Linked DNA regions of Homo sapiens: region 1 is linked to region 2. The links come from fine-mapping of genetic effects on gene expression. Tissue or cell type: thyroid. Region 2 holds a variant in brackets; the other region holds the start of a gene. All regions are shown on one strand. Distances are between the middles of the regions.

Region 1 (7,571 bases), 840 kb before region 2:
CGGTGTTAGTAAGAAATGGGGAGGAAGGCCCAGCTGTGGCGCCCTGGGCATTAATCCTAAAAAAAAAGATACTACTTCTATGTGCCAGAAACTTCAAAGCAAGTGAACACTTCAAGTACGAGAACCAGAGGTGTTTTTTTGTTTTTTCTTTTTTCTTTTGAGACGGAGTATCGCTCTGTCACCCAGGCTGGAGTGCAATGGTGCAATCTCGGCTCACTACAACCTCCGCCTTCTGGGTTCAAGCAATTTTCCTGCCTCAGCTTCCCGAGTAGCTGGGATTACAAGTATGAACCACCACGCCTGGCTAACTTTTGTATTTTTTTTTTTTTAGTAGAGACGGGGTTTCCCCATGTTGGCCAGGCTGGTCTCGATCTCCTGACCTCAGGTCATCCACCTGCCTCAGCCTCCCAAAGTGCTGGGATTACAGGCGTGAGCCACCCCACCCGGCCAAGAGGTGTTAAAATCTAAATCAGACTATGTCATGCCTCAGATCTGAACCTTTCAGTGACTGTCCCTAGCAAAGCCATAGCCTGTGAGGTGCCCCTCAAGGCCTCACCCGATTTCATTACTTGAGGATTTATCGTCTATCTTACTCTGCAGAATGGAAGCTCCAGGAGGGCAGGGGTTTTTAGACAAAGTAGAAATTGTCCACCACTTTATCCTGGCAGGTACAACATGCCCGATAAGCATTGTTGAATGTAGACTCACAGCCAATTCGTGACACTGGTGTCACCATTCTCCTTTACAGATGGGAAATGGGGCTTCTGGGGGAGTGAATGGCTTGCTTAGGTCACGCAATTCTAGATTGCAGAGTGAGGATTTGACTCAGACCTGTTGACCTCAGAGCCTGATGTCCAGCCAACAAGTTCTCAGAAACTCGGGGTTTCTGAGAAATAGGACAGTCAGCCTGGGGACCCCTGAGAGCCCAGGCCGAGGGGGTGGGTTTCCTGGGGTAGAGGTTTTGAGAGGCAAAGGCAGTTGTCATCAACCCAGGCTGCACTGAAGGGGGCTGTTCCAGAGCCAGGGTGCATTGTTCAGCTGCCCAGTGGGCCTCTGGGTTTCTTTCAGTTCCCTTTGGTGACACGGCTTCCCTCCTCCCCCCTGCTCCCCACCCCAGCCACCCCACTCTACACTCGCTCACACAGCGTAGCTTCTACTCGAGTCAGGGGAGGGTGCCTCCTACCACACCCTCAGTCTGTGATATTCCAGCCAGGGGAAATGGGGGAAGGGGCCATCTCACTGTGGGGAGTGGGGGGCCCGGACAGACCTCCCTGTCCCCACCGCCTCCTGGCCCATCAAGGGGAAATGGGAGTGCTCACACAAGGGCCGGGTGTGGCTTCACTTCCCCTCTACTTGCCCTTCCACCCCCAGGATGGCACTGGGAGGCCAAGGGATCCCAGATCCTGGAAACACTGGAGTGCTGCTCTCTGTCCTTCCTTTCTCCTGGGCCATGTCTCTGGCCCCAGATGATTCTTGGCTCAGGTTCTTTCAGTTGAGGGAAGTCAGGATCTGAGCCAAGCTGAGCCCCTGCATAGCCTCTATCCCGGGAGCCCCATATCAATGCTGCCGGCTTGGTAACATCATCCCCCTTTTAGAGACGAGGAAATGAGATTTGAGGTCCTACTTAAGGCCACTTGGCTGGAATACAGCAAAGCCAGGTGCAAGCCCCTTCTCTGCACGCAGCCCGTGCTGCTTCTTGAGGTTCAGAGGCTCTAAGGAAGGGGCCTCACCTGAGCAAGATGGACAGTGGGAAGGGGGCAGAGGGCAGAATTCTAGGGTCTCACGGTCCCTCAGAATGGGTGAGGAGTATTTGATAACAAAAGAAGGCTCTTCTTAGCTATTGCTCCAGATACGACCAGCATAGAATATTTTTCTATTAAGCATAACTGACCTCCAGTGAAAAAGGTTCCCATTTTGTGGGGAGCCACTTTTGAAATAGCAATTTCATTTTATTATTATTATTTTGAGATAAGATCTCACTTCTACGCCCAGGCTGGAGTGCGGTGGTGTGCCTCCTGGGTTCAAGCAATTCTCCCACCTCAGCCTCCCAAGTAGGTGGAACTATAGGTGTGTGTCACCACGCCAGGCTAATTTTTGTATTTTTTGTAGAGACAAGGTTTTGCCATATTGCCCAGGCTGGTCTCGAACTCTTGGACTCAAGTGATCTGCCTGCCTTAGCCTCTCAAAGTGTTGGGATTACAAATGTGAGCCACCGTGCCTGGCCTAGCAATTTCATTTTTAAAGAAAGAAATATAAAACGATCTACCCATTCACATTTTCCCCATCCATACTTTAAATTTTAAAAATATGAAATAATGAAATACTCAGCAGATACAAATAATAAAATACTTATATATAATGATATTTCGACTTCATATTAGGGCTTCAAAGGTCAGGAAAGAGGGAGAGATACAGAAGAGAAAAAAAAAAAACGTTAACACATGAGTGTCTTTTTTTAACTTGTTAAAGGTAAAGTTCAACCCAGGAGAAGGGAGGGGAGGGAAGGTCAAAGTTCTGATTCATCAACAAATACTACTTTATTTGTTAAAAATACAAGGCTCTGCTTGGCGCAGTGGCTCCCGCCTGTAATCCCAGCACTTTGGGAGGCCAAGGCGGGTGGATCGCCTGAGGTCAGGAGCTCGAGACCAGCCTGGCCAACATGGTGAAACCCCGTCTCTACTTGGGAGGCTGAGGCAGGAGAATCGCTTGAACTGGGGAGGCAGAGGTTGCAGTGAGCTGAGATCGCACTGCTGCACTCCAGCCCGGGTGACAGAGCAAGACTCCATATCAAAAAATAAAATAAAATAAAATGAACAATGAAAAGACAGGAGGGAGGTTCCTGAGTAAGCTGATTCGAGTGGAAATCAGACATCAAAATTGAAACCCGCTGAATTTTCCAAAAAGCCAGATGCTCATAGAACTGAAGCTTGAGACACTTACATCAGTACACCTGCTGCCTGTTGACCAATTCCTCTTCCTTGTCCCTCCTGTTTTCCTTCCCTGCTATATAAGCCCCTAACTTTAGTCAAGGGGAGGGATGGATTGGAGGTTTGTCTCCCCTCTCAACAGCTCACTGGCTGATGTCACCGGAATAAAGTCTTCCCTGGCAATACTCGCTGTCTCAGTGATAGGCTTTCTGTGCGGTGAGCAGCCAGACCTGGACCAAACCCCTGGCAATCCATAACAAAATCATAAGCAAAATCAACCAGGAAGCTATTTGCACCCTGGAACCCCACCTGGGAGGGGAAGTCAAGGCAGACTTTCCAGAGAAGGCGATGCTGAAAATTTCAGAAACAGAAATTTTGAAGAGCAAGAGTTACCAAGCGAAGAACATTCCATGAGAAGGAACAGGAGGTGTGTGAAGGTGGAGGTTCTGGGGTGAGGTTCTTTATGGAATCGAAAACGGTTCAGAACCACAGGTCGACGGTCAAGGTAGTAGTGAGAGGAGGTGGGACAGGCGACCACGCCGCTGCCCCTGGGATGACTGGAAGGCGACTTAGGGGAGCTGGGGCGAGACAGGTGCAGGGTTTGAGGATGAGAAAGGCACAGAGTGACTAGAGGATTCCCGCCTGCAAGCACATCTGGAAGGGGTGTCTGGATCCTGGGGGCAGCGACTGTGTTCTAGGGCGAGAGCCACCCTCGCCAGGGGTGTAGGCAGGCGAGAGGAGGGCCTGGAGCTGTGGGTCGGCCACACTGCGCCCTCATTTGTGTGCAGCCCCGGAGGACCAGAGTGGGGAAGCACCCCACCCTCTCCCAGGGCCCAACTGAGCACTGCAGCGGGAGGTACGGGGTTGTCAAATGACAGTTTTGCCATTCCAGATTGCCAAAAGAGCCAGTGGCCAGTCTAGGGCACCGCGCCGTCTGGCATCTCCCTGGAGGCCCTGGGCCTGGCCCGAGGCTCAGCCCGGATCTGCAGTTGCCAGGTCAGTGCGGGGCCCGGAGTGGATTCGCGGGGCGGGGCGGGGCACTGCCCGCGCCCGGAGCTCAGCAGCAGCTGCCCAGGGGCGGGGGCGGCAAGACGCGGAAGTGCCCGGCAGGTTGGCGGACCGGCGGGAGGCGCAGCCTGGGCAGAGCTCAGCTTGGTCCCGCCGCCCGGCCGGTGCTCCCTGGCGCAGCCACGCAGGCGCACCGCAGACAGGTGGGTCCCGGCCGCCGCGCTCTCCTCTCTGCGTCCGCGCCCGGCGCGCCCCGAGGGTGGCGGGAGCGGTGCCGGCTACTGCCCCCAAGTCTAGGCCTAGACTGGGCCCCGCGCCCCCCAGGCACCTGCGGGCGGCGGGATGAAGACTGGAGTAGGGCGGGGTCCGCGTCCAGCTGCGCCTGGAAAGCGAGCTCGGGTGGGTGCCTACAGCAGGGTGCGCCCGGCCGGCCTGGGACTTCCAAAGCGCCTCCCACGCCCCGATCGGTTTGGGGTGCTGGCGCCCGGGGAGCCCAGTGACCCAGGCGGCGGAGTGGGCAGCGCTGCGGGGGGCGCCGGCTCTGCTGCTCTCCCTCCCCCTCGCCATCGCCCAGAATGGGGGTTCCCGGGAGCCCCGCTGGAGGCTGGCTTGGACCACAGAGGAGCGAGGCCCGATCCTTACTTTCGATGCACTCGCCCTTGCTCTTACCGGGCCACCCTCACCCTTTCGGAAAAGAGGTTGAGGTTAAAGCGTTCATCCCCCGGGATCTTCAGGCCAATGGCAGGAACTGTGCAAGAGTTTGGGGGAAGATGGTGTCAGGTAGAGGCTGCGTCCCTGGGCTCGCGGCCGGGAATGGCAGACTCTCGTCCCCCGAGCAGCGGAAAAGGATGGGGCGCAATAGTTCCTGGGCTGGTTTCCTCAGGTCCTGTCCCAGAACTTAAGAAGGCAACAATGAAGAGGCTAAACGTGGAGGAAAAGTGAGGCTAGCATGGCCGGGATGCGTGGGGAGATGGTTGTCTCCGGACCCCGGGAGGGGCGGGAGCGGGTACCTGGGAGCAGAGGCTGGAGTGGGGGACTTTCCCAGCCTCGCGGCCACGCTGAACACAGCAGGGCGAGGACCGGGGTGCTGCTCCTCCAGCAGCAGGAGGAGAGGTCCAGAGGCCGACTCTGGAGGTGGGGGTGGCTCCGCGGGCTGGCCCAGGGGGTGTGCCCCAGCGGAGCACGCGGGAGGGGTGGGGGCGGAGGGGAGGGGGGAGCAGGGGCGGAGGACTGGGCTGGGCCTGGGCTCCTCGAGGGCCCAGAATGGGGATAAGTGACCAGAACCAGAGAGGGCTCGGCTGTATCGATGTAGGAAACTGTAGCCCCTCAGGAGGCCCTCTGGCAAGACCTCCCCTTCCTGCCCCCACCCCCAGTAGTTATGGGGCCTGGGGTGCTGGGGCTGAGGGGTTCCAAGAGTCAAGGGAAGCACTGGGAAATCACCCCTTTTTATCTAAAGGCCCTACTTTGGGGTTTTTCCCCTGTACCCTGGTCTTCCCCTACCCTGACCCTGGGAGGAAGCTGAAAGAAGCTTCTTTCTGGGCACCTTTTGCCCCAGAGCCTCAGCCTGTCTGGACCAGGTGGGCAGCAGGGCCCAGGGTGTGGGCAGCTGACCCGGAGGGGTGGGATTTGGGGGTCAGGGCCTGTACAGGGAACCCCTTGTCCTCTCCCTGAGCTGGGTGTGGGTTTGCAAGGAGACATGTGACCCAGACCAACCCTGGGAGCAGCAGGGCGCCTGCTGTCTGGCCACTCTTACTAGGACTGCTGTGGCACTTCCTCCCCTAGTGGGTCCCTGGTGCCCATGAATTGCAGCTCCTGGGTGGTGGTGGGGGCACTGTCTCCTGGGACTCCAGCATGGCCCTGGGGTGAGCTGTGGGCTTACCCCACCTCAGCAGGTCCTCTAGGGCTGCCCACTGGATGCTTCGCTGCCTCACACAATTGTAGGGACTTCCTCAGGCTGTTGGATTTCCCCACCTTCCGGGGCTCAGGTCCATTGACTTAGGTCTAGGGCTCCATACATTTCACCCAGAGACTCCGGAGCCTGGCAGGCAGACCTGTTCTGACACCGAACTTCCAAAGTCATGGGCCTTGATTGGGGTGGTCTGAATTAGACCTAGCCCTTTTCTGGGCAGAAGGGAGCTTCTAGGAGGATGGATGCTGTTCGGGTTAGAGCTCGTGTGGACCTAGCTGCAGGCAAAAGCCTTGAGGCTGAGTCCCTTCTGTGGCATGGTGGACAGACTCTCGCTCATCACAGCCGGGCTTGTCACGGGAGCTCCTCCTCCACACCCCTCCCTAAGCTGCCTGTATGGACGCGGCCCTCTGACACTGAGGTCGGAGTTATCATTTCAAAACCTTGCTCTGTATTAAACAGCCGTGTTGGGCAGGGCCAGACTGCTGGACTGACAGTAGGGGGCAGGCAGCCGGACCCTCTGAGCTCCCCAACGGCACCAGCGCCTGCACGGCCTCAGCCCAGGGGGTCATTAGGGAAGCTCTCCCCGATTCTGTGCAGACAGAGCTTCCTCTGTCCACCCTTGCTCGGCCAGAATTGTGTGCCGCTGGTGACTGGCACCCCTCTATTCTAGGGCCAAGGCCTCTCAGGGGTCTACAGATACAACTATGGGTGGGTGCACACCCATGTTATAAACCACACTAAATGCACAAAAACTGTCTGCAAGTTTGGGGTGCGGGGAACAGCTCTGGGTGGGAGGTTGGAAATTTGGTCTGGGGGACCCACTCGGCTCCCTCCCTCAGCCCACAGTGAGTCTGGTTTCTGAGTTGTCCCGGTCTAGCCACTTTCGTTTCCCCTGGGGCCGGGTGGAGGCTGGGGCAGAAAGCGGAACTGAGCCCGCGTGTTCTGAGGCCAGGGCAGGGCTGGAGCGTTCTGAACACCTCCCCGTCCCAGCCCCTGGGCCAGGCAAGGGCCGGCCTTACCTCTCCTGGGTTGGTGGCAGCAGAGCTGGGCTCTGAGGGAGGCCTGCAATGTGAGACAGTAGCAGCTCAGAGGCGGCACTAGGCAGGTGCAACCCCAAAAGGTACTGGGCAGGGAATTTCAGGGGAAACTGAGGCTCCATGCTGCAAGGCCAAAGCAGGCCCAGACACAGGGAGTTCAGCTCGAACGTTTGCTCCTTACTTGCTGACCGACACATTCACTTCTGATGGGCTGTGCTGTGTAATGACCCAGTCCTTTCTGTCTTCCACCCAGGGGTCTCAAGTGAAGGGCCAAGGGCATGGGTAAGGGGAGGAGAGGGACAGAAGGGGACTCAGGACTGTGGAGAGTTTCCGGTTCTGGGCTGGAGAGGGAGTTGGGCAGGTGAAGGGGAGGAGGCAGGGTCCCTCTGGCCTGACTCCAGGGAGGCAGTGAAGCTGTGGCCTGGGAGGCGGGGCTCGTGCCCCTGGGTAGGTAGCAGTTAGAGCTGTGGCTTCTGTTTCCTGTAGCCTTCCTAACAGGCTCCGGCAGGCGTTAGGGCCTTCCTAAGTGCTACCCGAATGCGTGTCCAGTGGGAGGAGAAGGGGGAGGACCAAGAACCTAGATGAATGGCCCTAGAGAGGTAACATCTGTTTGGTGCCTGCTGTCATTGGAGGTGGGTTGAGTTGGTTGATGGGATTTCTCTAAAGATATTGAGAAACTGCTTTCCTCTG
Region 2 (7,571 bases):
GGAGAGGGTGGGAGGGAGGGTCTCTGGGGAGCTGGCACCCAGGGCAGGCAAGCTGGGGCCTCCGCAGAGTGGCCACTAGAGTCTCAGCCTACTCCAGGTCAGCGGTGGCCCAGAAGGCAGGGTGGCTAGAAAATATCCTGGAAGGGTCAGAGCAGGTGCCCTGGCCCAGAAACTATGCAGACCTCTTGGCGATGTTACCCCCAGGAACTACCTCCCGTGGACCTCAGAGCTCCATCTGGGTACCTTGGCCAAAGCCATCCGCTCTCCCCTAGACACTGCTTAATGCTCCACCCTTCCTGCTCCCGAGGACTCTTTGTCCTGCTCCCACACACCCCCACTACAGGGCTCTGCCCTTCTAGCTGGTCTATCTCCCCAGAGGACAATCCAGCTTGATGAGGTGGTGATCTCAGGAAGTCACTCCTCAGCCTTCTGCCTCAGTTTCCCTTACTACAATTTTCTGAACTCTACTAAGGAAGAGAGACCAGACTTCCCAGCCTTGGGTGGGGAGGGGAAGGGGTGATGGCAGGGTGTTAGCAAAGAGTATGGGGTGGGTAGTTATGAACATTGCTTAGGGTGTAGCCATAAGCATCACCCAAGGAGCCTGTTGAAATGTAGATTCTTGAGCCTGCCTGGAAATCTGCATTTTAATAGCACCCTGACAGCTCAGCATGGGGTGGGGGTGGGGGTGGGAAGATCTATTTTGAGAAATCTTTCCCAAGAAGCCTCACCCTGGGATAATTAAACAGAATGCAGAATTCTTCTTTCTTCTGGCTGGGCGCAGTGGCTCACACCTGTAATCCCAGCGCACTTTGGGAGACGGGAGGATCGCCTGAGGTTAGAAGCTCGAGACCAGCCTGGTTAGCATGGTGAAACCCCCGTCTCTACTAAAAATACAAAAATTAGCCAGGCGTGGTAGCAGGCGCCCGAAGCTGAGGCAGGAGAATCGCTTGAACCCGGGAGGTGGAGGTTGCAGTGAGCAGAGATCGCACCACTGCACTCCAGCCTGGGCAACAACAGAGCGAGATTCTGTCTCAACAACAACAAAAAAAAAAAAAAAAAAAAAAAGAATTCTTCATTCTTCTTTTGGGGACAGCCAAGGATGGGGAGAGGCAGGTGTTAGGGAAGGGGAACACGCAGCACCTTGCAACCAAGGAGCCACAGAGGCCTTAGAGCTGGAGAACAGATGGAGCCAGGGATTCTGCTCTCCCCAGCCCAGGAAGGAATAAAAGGGACCCCAGGTAGAGGAGAGAGCCCTGTAACAAAGCAGCCAAACACGTACGCTCCTTCAAATTGTGGCATCTCTGTCGAGCTCCTTGGTCTGTTTTCCTCATCTTTGTAACTGACATAGGATGGAATACAGGGAGCAGCTCGCAAAGCCAAATCCCTCTCCACTTCCAGTTCTAGTCGGCTGGGCCAGGTTCCTCCCCTGCGCCTGCCTCACCCCTCCTAACCCAAATGCGACAGGAAGCCCAAGTGCCGCAGTGCCTGGGGGGTGCCACGCCCGCTGGGGCCTCTCCATCCTGGTGGAGGGAGGCTGGGGCCTGGGCCCTAGGGAAGCAAGGTCTCCCAGCTCTCTCGAAAAGCGGGTAAGAGGAGCTCTCCGACATCAGCAGCAGAATCCCCACTCGGAATCTCAAAAGGGAAAACAGAGGCCTATGGCTTGGCGCAGGTCAGGATAGCAGCCTCTTCTGCCCTCCCTGCAGGACACAGCCCTGACCTTGAGATCAAAGGCACAGAAATCCGCTTCTGGAGTGGGAAGATGAAGACAAGGTCTCCCACACCCGCTGGGCGTCAGCGCCTGGCAATGGAAGAGGACCAAAAGAGATGCAACTTGCAGGCCAGGCTGGGCAGCCAGGGACTCACAGGGTGTGTGGGGGTCCTACACATCCTAGGAGGTCTCCACAAAGCGCCCCCTCCCACCTTCGGTCGCTCTCAGCCCCACCCTCCTGAACTCTACTTGGGCCTTCTTAAAACTCGAGTCCCCTTTCCCCTAGGGGTGTCCCTTCCTGGGCACTGGTGCCCAATGCAAAGGGCAGGCCCCCAACCCCTTCCAGTGTTAGAGGTGAGTGTTGCAGGACTCTGGGCTATGGGTACTCCGGGGTCCTTAGACAGCACATAGCCTACCGCTCGACTCCTGGCTCTCCTCTCCACCTCTACACAACGAATCTGGAGTCCAGGGTCCCAGCCGCGCCACCCACAACCGGTCTGGTCCTGATCCCTCCAGTCTCTATCAAATGCCCCTGAGGTCCCAGGGGCTAGAGGCTGCTGGGGCCCTTGAACGGGCATGCCCTGGACGCTGCGCCTGTCATCCTGTGTCCCCATGAGGTGCTGGGAGAGGGGCCCAGAGCTCCTTTCCCCGAAGCCCAGGCCGCCACCGACCCATTAAATAAATACTCAGGTGTCTGGGGTGCGGAGCTCACTCCAAGAGCCACTGGGCCCCGGTAGGAGAAAAAGAATAAACGAAATCCTCACAAGTGAGGCCGGCATCCTAGAATTTTCTCTTCTTTGCGTAAGGCCGACTCCAGAGGTCCCGCTAACTCCCCCGCAGGAGCATGAAGGGGCGGCCTTGAGCGGTAAAGAAACGAGCAGTGGTGGAGGCTGCCGCTCCGAGCCCAGGTCCGAACCGAGAGCCGCGCGGGGAATGTGGGGGTCGAGGCTGAGAGCTGGGCTTGGGGCAGGTTCCTTTGCGTTCGCTCAGGCCACGATGAGGCCACTAGGACAGATTTCTCCGAAGGCTCGGCCTCGGATCAGAGATCCGCCGACTCGGTGCCCATCGGTCGGGCTCACTGGGTGACAGGTAGAGGGTGATGCGCACCCGTAGAGCTGAGTGACCCGGCCCGAGAATCCGCCACCTGGCTCGCAGGATTTTCGCCCTCAGGAGCTTTGCGAAGACGGGCGCAAACCTGGGAGGCGCCGCCGCACCTTGCCTGTGGGGGTGGGGAGGTCGATTACGGCACCGCCCGCCCTCGGCCCTAATCGCTCAGAGCCGGCCTCAGTGCCCCTGCCCCCGGCGGGTATTACTGTACACGGTGTCCGGGAGCCCGGGTTGGAAGAGCAAACGAATGGCTCAGCCTGGAGGACACCGTGGAATCGGGCGACCCCTGACCCCGGGTGACACCCTCACTGCCCATAGTCCTGGGATGCGCTGACC[G/C]GTGAGGCGCCAGAGGCAAGCCGTCCAGCCGCCGATCTTGGGGAAGGGCTGGGAACCTGGGTGCCACTAGCGCTATTAACAGGAATGGGGCAGTTGAGGGCGGGGAACGGTGTCTCATTCGCGTGCGCCGGGGTTCCCGGGATGAGTGGCCGCGAAGTGGAGGCACACGGGAGGTCTGAGAGCCGCTTTCCCCCAGAGACTGGGCGGGGCGGCTCCGGGCCACGGAAGCAGCCTCGAACCAGCCGCGCAGCCCTGACAAGACGCTGGAGGGGCCAGCTCCGGGGCCCCGGCGCTCTCCGCAGCCCCCTCCCAGCCTGGCGCTTCCGCCTGAGCCCACCAGGGCGGCGAAACGCAGCCCGACCCCAGCCAAACTCCTCGCGGGTAGGCACCTCGCAAGCACCGGCCGCACTCGGACCGCAGCCGCTCCCGCCCCCGCCCCCGCCCGGGAACAGCGCTGGGCGCTGGGCAGACGCCACTGGCGGACCCGGGACCCAGGCGCCCCGTGGGCGCCTCCGCCTGAAGGCGCGGAAGAGCGAGTAGGCACTGCCGCGTCATCCCCGAAAGCCAGCTGCGCCGGGACTTCTGCCCTGCACCCGGGTTCTAGTGCGGCCGGTCCCGGGCGCCCGCCTCCGCCTCCTCTACTGAGCCCCGCTCTGGCTCCGCCCGGCCCGCCCCCCCGCTCCCGGCCCCAGACACTCACCTGCGCCGGCTCCAGGCTGGGCGCACAGCCGCCTCTCAGCTCCGCGCGGAGTCCACACCAGAGAAGCCAGGCAAAAACGGCCCCGGTTTGGAAAGAGCCGCATGGACGGAGCTTGAAGCGCGCCCGGCCCGGGCCCAAACCTCCGCTGCCCCGCGAGAGGGGGCGGCGCCGGAGCGCCGAGCCCAGCGGGGGAACAAAGGGGAGCCGGGACCCGGCCGCGCGCTTCCTGGGTGTCGGGTGACAGGTCTGCCGGGGAAGGCCCCGGCCCGGCCACCTGAAGAGGAGCCGCCTCCGCGCTGCAGGCGGGGGAGGTCCAGAGGGGTACCTGGGCCCGAGGACCGGAAGAACAGGGGGCGCGGGCTGCCCGGACCGCGCGGCTGGACGGAGGCCCTGCGGCTCCGGCACGGCTGCGCGGGGGCTCGACGGAGTGCACAGAGAATGACTCCAGGAGGGTTTTACCGCCCCCCGCCCCGGGCCCCGCCCGCCCCTCGCGCAGCGCCATTGGCTCAGGTGCCGCGAGGCGGGGAGGGGCAGGGGGCGGGCCGGGGATGATTCACCTTGAATGTGGCTCCGGTTGGTGCGCGGCGCAGGGCACGCCCGTCCGGGACTGCGGAGACGCCGGGAGCCCCGCCTGCTTGCCCAACCCGGCCGGGTCTGGCCCCAAGGGGTCCCGTCGCCCGCCTTCTATCCCCGCCTCCTGCCCTCGGGCTAGGGTGCCGCTAGCCGAGGTGCGCCCGGACGCCCTGCCACCCCAGCGCCCTCTGAGCCCGGAGCTAGCCGAGGTGTGTGTGGCGTGGCGTGCTTGGAAATCCGACCCTGGGAGGGGGGAGGGGAAGTGCGTTGGGAGCTGGGGCGCACCGTAGGGCCACTGGACGATCTCTGCAGTCTCCCCGCAGAAAGGTGCTCAAGGCTGACCTGTCTCAGGGGGCGCACCCGGACCCAGGGGCGCAGGGCTGGAATGGGGACAAGGGGCCTCCATGTCCTCACACGCCCACCCTCGGCCAGTTCTGCGGCCTCACAGGTGTCTGGCCACCGCTGCCGCCGCCGCCGGGAACAAAGGCTGTCTGTCCCAAGAGAGGGAGGGGGAGGGGAGCCGCCCCCCAGACCCGTTCCCATCTCCCCCTCCCCCCACTGCGACAGTGGCTCCCTCGGGAGGGGGCGGGGCCAGCCGGGGCTGGGGCGCGGACGCGGATTAGATCCTTCTCAACCGTCCTTTGGTCTGACACCACCCGGAGCATTCAGAAGGGACCGGGGGGCAGGGGCTAGGTCCTCCAAGCTGTCAGCGTTGGGGTGGCCTCTTCCTTCTTCCCCAGCATCCTGAGCACCGGAGCGCCCCCTCCCTCCCTGCTGCTTTGGCTGCCCTTGGCAGTCCCAGCTCCGCCCCGCCCGGCCGCCCCAGACGGCAACGGCAGCTCAAAACCAGATTAAAATAAAACGTTAATCCGCCCTTCTCCTTTTTAGCTTCTAGTTCTTCCCAATCGACCCCCGCAGATCTGGCACCCTAGAAGCCCCTGTAAAATGAGGGTGGTGCTTAGCCTATGCTCCCACCAAACCTAACCCTTGCACTTGAAGACCGTTAACACCTTGTCTTGGGCTCGAGCAAAAGAAGGGGGTGAGGCAGTGGAAGCGGGGCCCGGGAAATCTATAGTTTCCCCACCCCCAGCTCCTGCCGAGCCGGGAGGGGCCAAGGGTGACGGCAAGGATACGAACCCTTCAATATGCCCGACTCCCGGGCAGGGCCTGCTGAAGCCGTAGATGTCGCAGCCAGATGGATCGGGAAGCAAGATTCCCACCCCAGGTGGATAACTGGACGAGTCTCAGGGCCTCGGGGCCCCTCTCCCCATGCAGCCAGGGATGGGCACGGTGAGCGAGAACCCGGACAGCGGAGATAATGAGCACGTCACAGAGCCCAACGGGCCAAAAGGGGGTGATAGCTCCACATTAACCCCTCCCCGTCCTACTAGCATTCCCCCGCCCATCTAGGTCGCCTCGAGCCTCCCTGGCTGTCTCTGCACCCGCGCCCTACCTGGTCCTCAGACCCATGCGATGCTGGGCAACCCGGGCCGGGTGTGCCCAGGACCGCAAAGCGGGAAGCGCAGGCCTTGCGGACTGCGAGTGGCCCCCGCGGCCTGCTGCTCCCCTTTATAACGCGCGCCCCGCCCCCCGCGCTCCGGGCGCCCCGCCCTGGCCCATTCACCTGCTGTCGAGAACCAGACACCGCGCAGCAGAAAGCTAGCCGCTGGGCCGCGAGGTCCGGCCGTCGGAGCGGGCGGGGCTGGGGCGCCGCCGAGACAGATCCGATTTCCACCTTTTCTTAAATGCGCTGCTGAAAGTCGAGAAGGCCCCGGCCGGGGAGCTCGCGTCGCTTCCTCCCCCCTCAGCTCCCCTCGCACCCTGAGTCCCCCAGCCCCACTCCGGGAGGGGCCGCGAAACTGCACCCGCAAGGGCCTCATACATATTTTAAGGAGCAGGCCAGGCAGGTAACCGGAGCTGGACTCGGACGGTGAGGGGGCGGCCCCCGGGGACCTGATACCCTGGATCCCTTACGGCTCAGGGCTCAGGCGGGGGAAGAGGTGGCTCAGGACGACCTGGGGTCCTCACTTTGCTGGCCTGTCCAGCGCATCCTAAGCCCGCGTGTATCCTACCCCCTCCTTCTGCAGATCCAATGTCCGTCTGGCAATTGCCCCATTCCCTCTCGCTGGAGAGATCCCTTCCGCCTCGCCACAGGCGTCCCACGCTGCCCGGAGTCGTGCGCCCCGGGACGGGTAGTTTTGGGTTCCTCGACGCTTGGCCAGGTTTAGGAAAGACCCGCTGTCTTCCTTGCTGCCCCCACCTAGGAGACTCGGCGCCTTGCGCTCCGTCCTTTTTAATGGTGTCGCGGCTTGTCCCTCTGGCTTGCTCCCTCCTAGTCCCTACCCCACACGGCTCCCTTCGCCAGCTCCATGACAATCCCACTCGTGCTGAAGACCTTGGGCAAAGAAGTAACCATCGGTCTTCCCCTCCCTTCCCATTCCTCCGGCGGCAGGACTAGGGGGAAAGGTGCCCGGGATACAAGCCCCTCACGCAGACCCACTGATGCGGCCGTGGTTCTGCCATTGGCCCCTCTCCGAATGGTGAGGTTCTCCTGCTAACCCTGGCCCCATGGCATAACTAGTATAACCCCAGTGAGAGGAACCCAGAGTTCCAGTCCTCCCCTGCTCCAGTCCCTCTGTGATCTCGATCTCGAGGGATTCACTTCACCTCTCTAAGCCTCAGTTTCCCATTTGCAAAATGGGCAGAATGACTCGCACCTCTGGGGATGAAGAAAATGCACATGTGAGCACGTGGGTACTTGGCGACCCGGAGATCTCTGCAAACTGCAGGCCCAGCGAGATGGCCTCAGCACGCCCTGCACCCTCGTCCGCGCGACTGCCGCCGGGTGCCCGCCCCAGCCGCTGTGTCCCTGGTGCTTCCTCCGCCAGGGCCACGTGCCGGGGAAGCCAAAGCGGGAGTCTTTCGATCTTGGCCCAGCCCTTAGCCCTCGGTCCTTTGCTCTAGCATCTAGATTCTCGTGGGTCAACAAAGTCACTGGAAACCCAACGAACTTCCCGACATTTTTCGAAAACCGTATGCGTGTGCTTCTGTGCGTTTTTCCTCTGATCGAGGTAGGGCCCTGTAGGGTTCTGTTTGGACGGGAGGCTGGAGTGGTTCCTTCCCGGCTGCGGGGTCGGAGGATGCAGA

What was found. PIP is the estimated chance that this variant, and not a neighbour inherited with it, causes the effect.
Region 1: it holds the start of IRF5, and the variant in region 2 is fine-mapped to the expression of IRF5 in thyroid (GTEx, PIP 0.92).

The regions. Positions count from the first base shown.
Region 1 is chr7:128,933,912-128,941,482 of GRCh38, forward strand. IRF5 (interferon regulatory factor 5) reads left to right here and starts at 4,016. Exons shown (of 9, transcript NM_001098629.3): 1 at 4,016-4,138. RefSeq lists enhancers at 489-538, 2,344-2,638, 4,306-4,889, 4,923-4,992, 6,483-6,712 and 2 more and silencers at 1,059-1,148, 3,883-4,642.
Region 2 is chr7:129,775,939-129,783,509 of GRCh38, forward strand. No RefSeq gene overlaps it. Among named protein-coding and RNA genes, the nearest start is that of MIR183, 4.7 kb to the left of the region's middle. RefSeq lists enhancers at 1,000-1,846, 4,385-5,230, 6,077-6,922, 6,923-7,571 and silencers at 3,545-3,674, 3,825-3,904, 3,965-4,764. The variant G/C (reference allele first, on the strand shown) is at 3,152.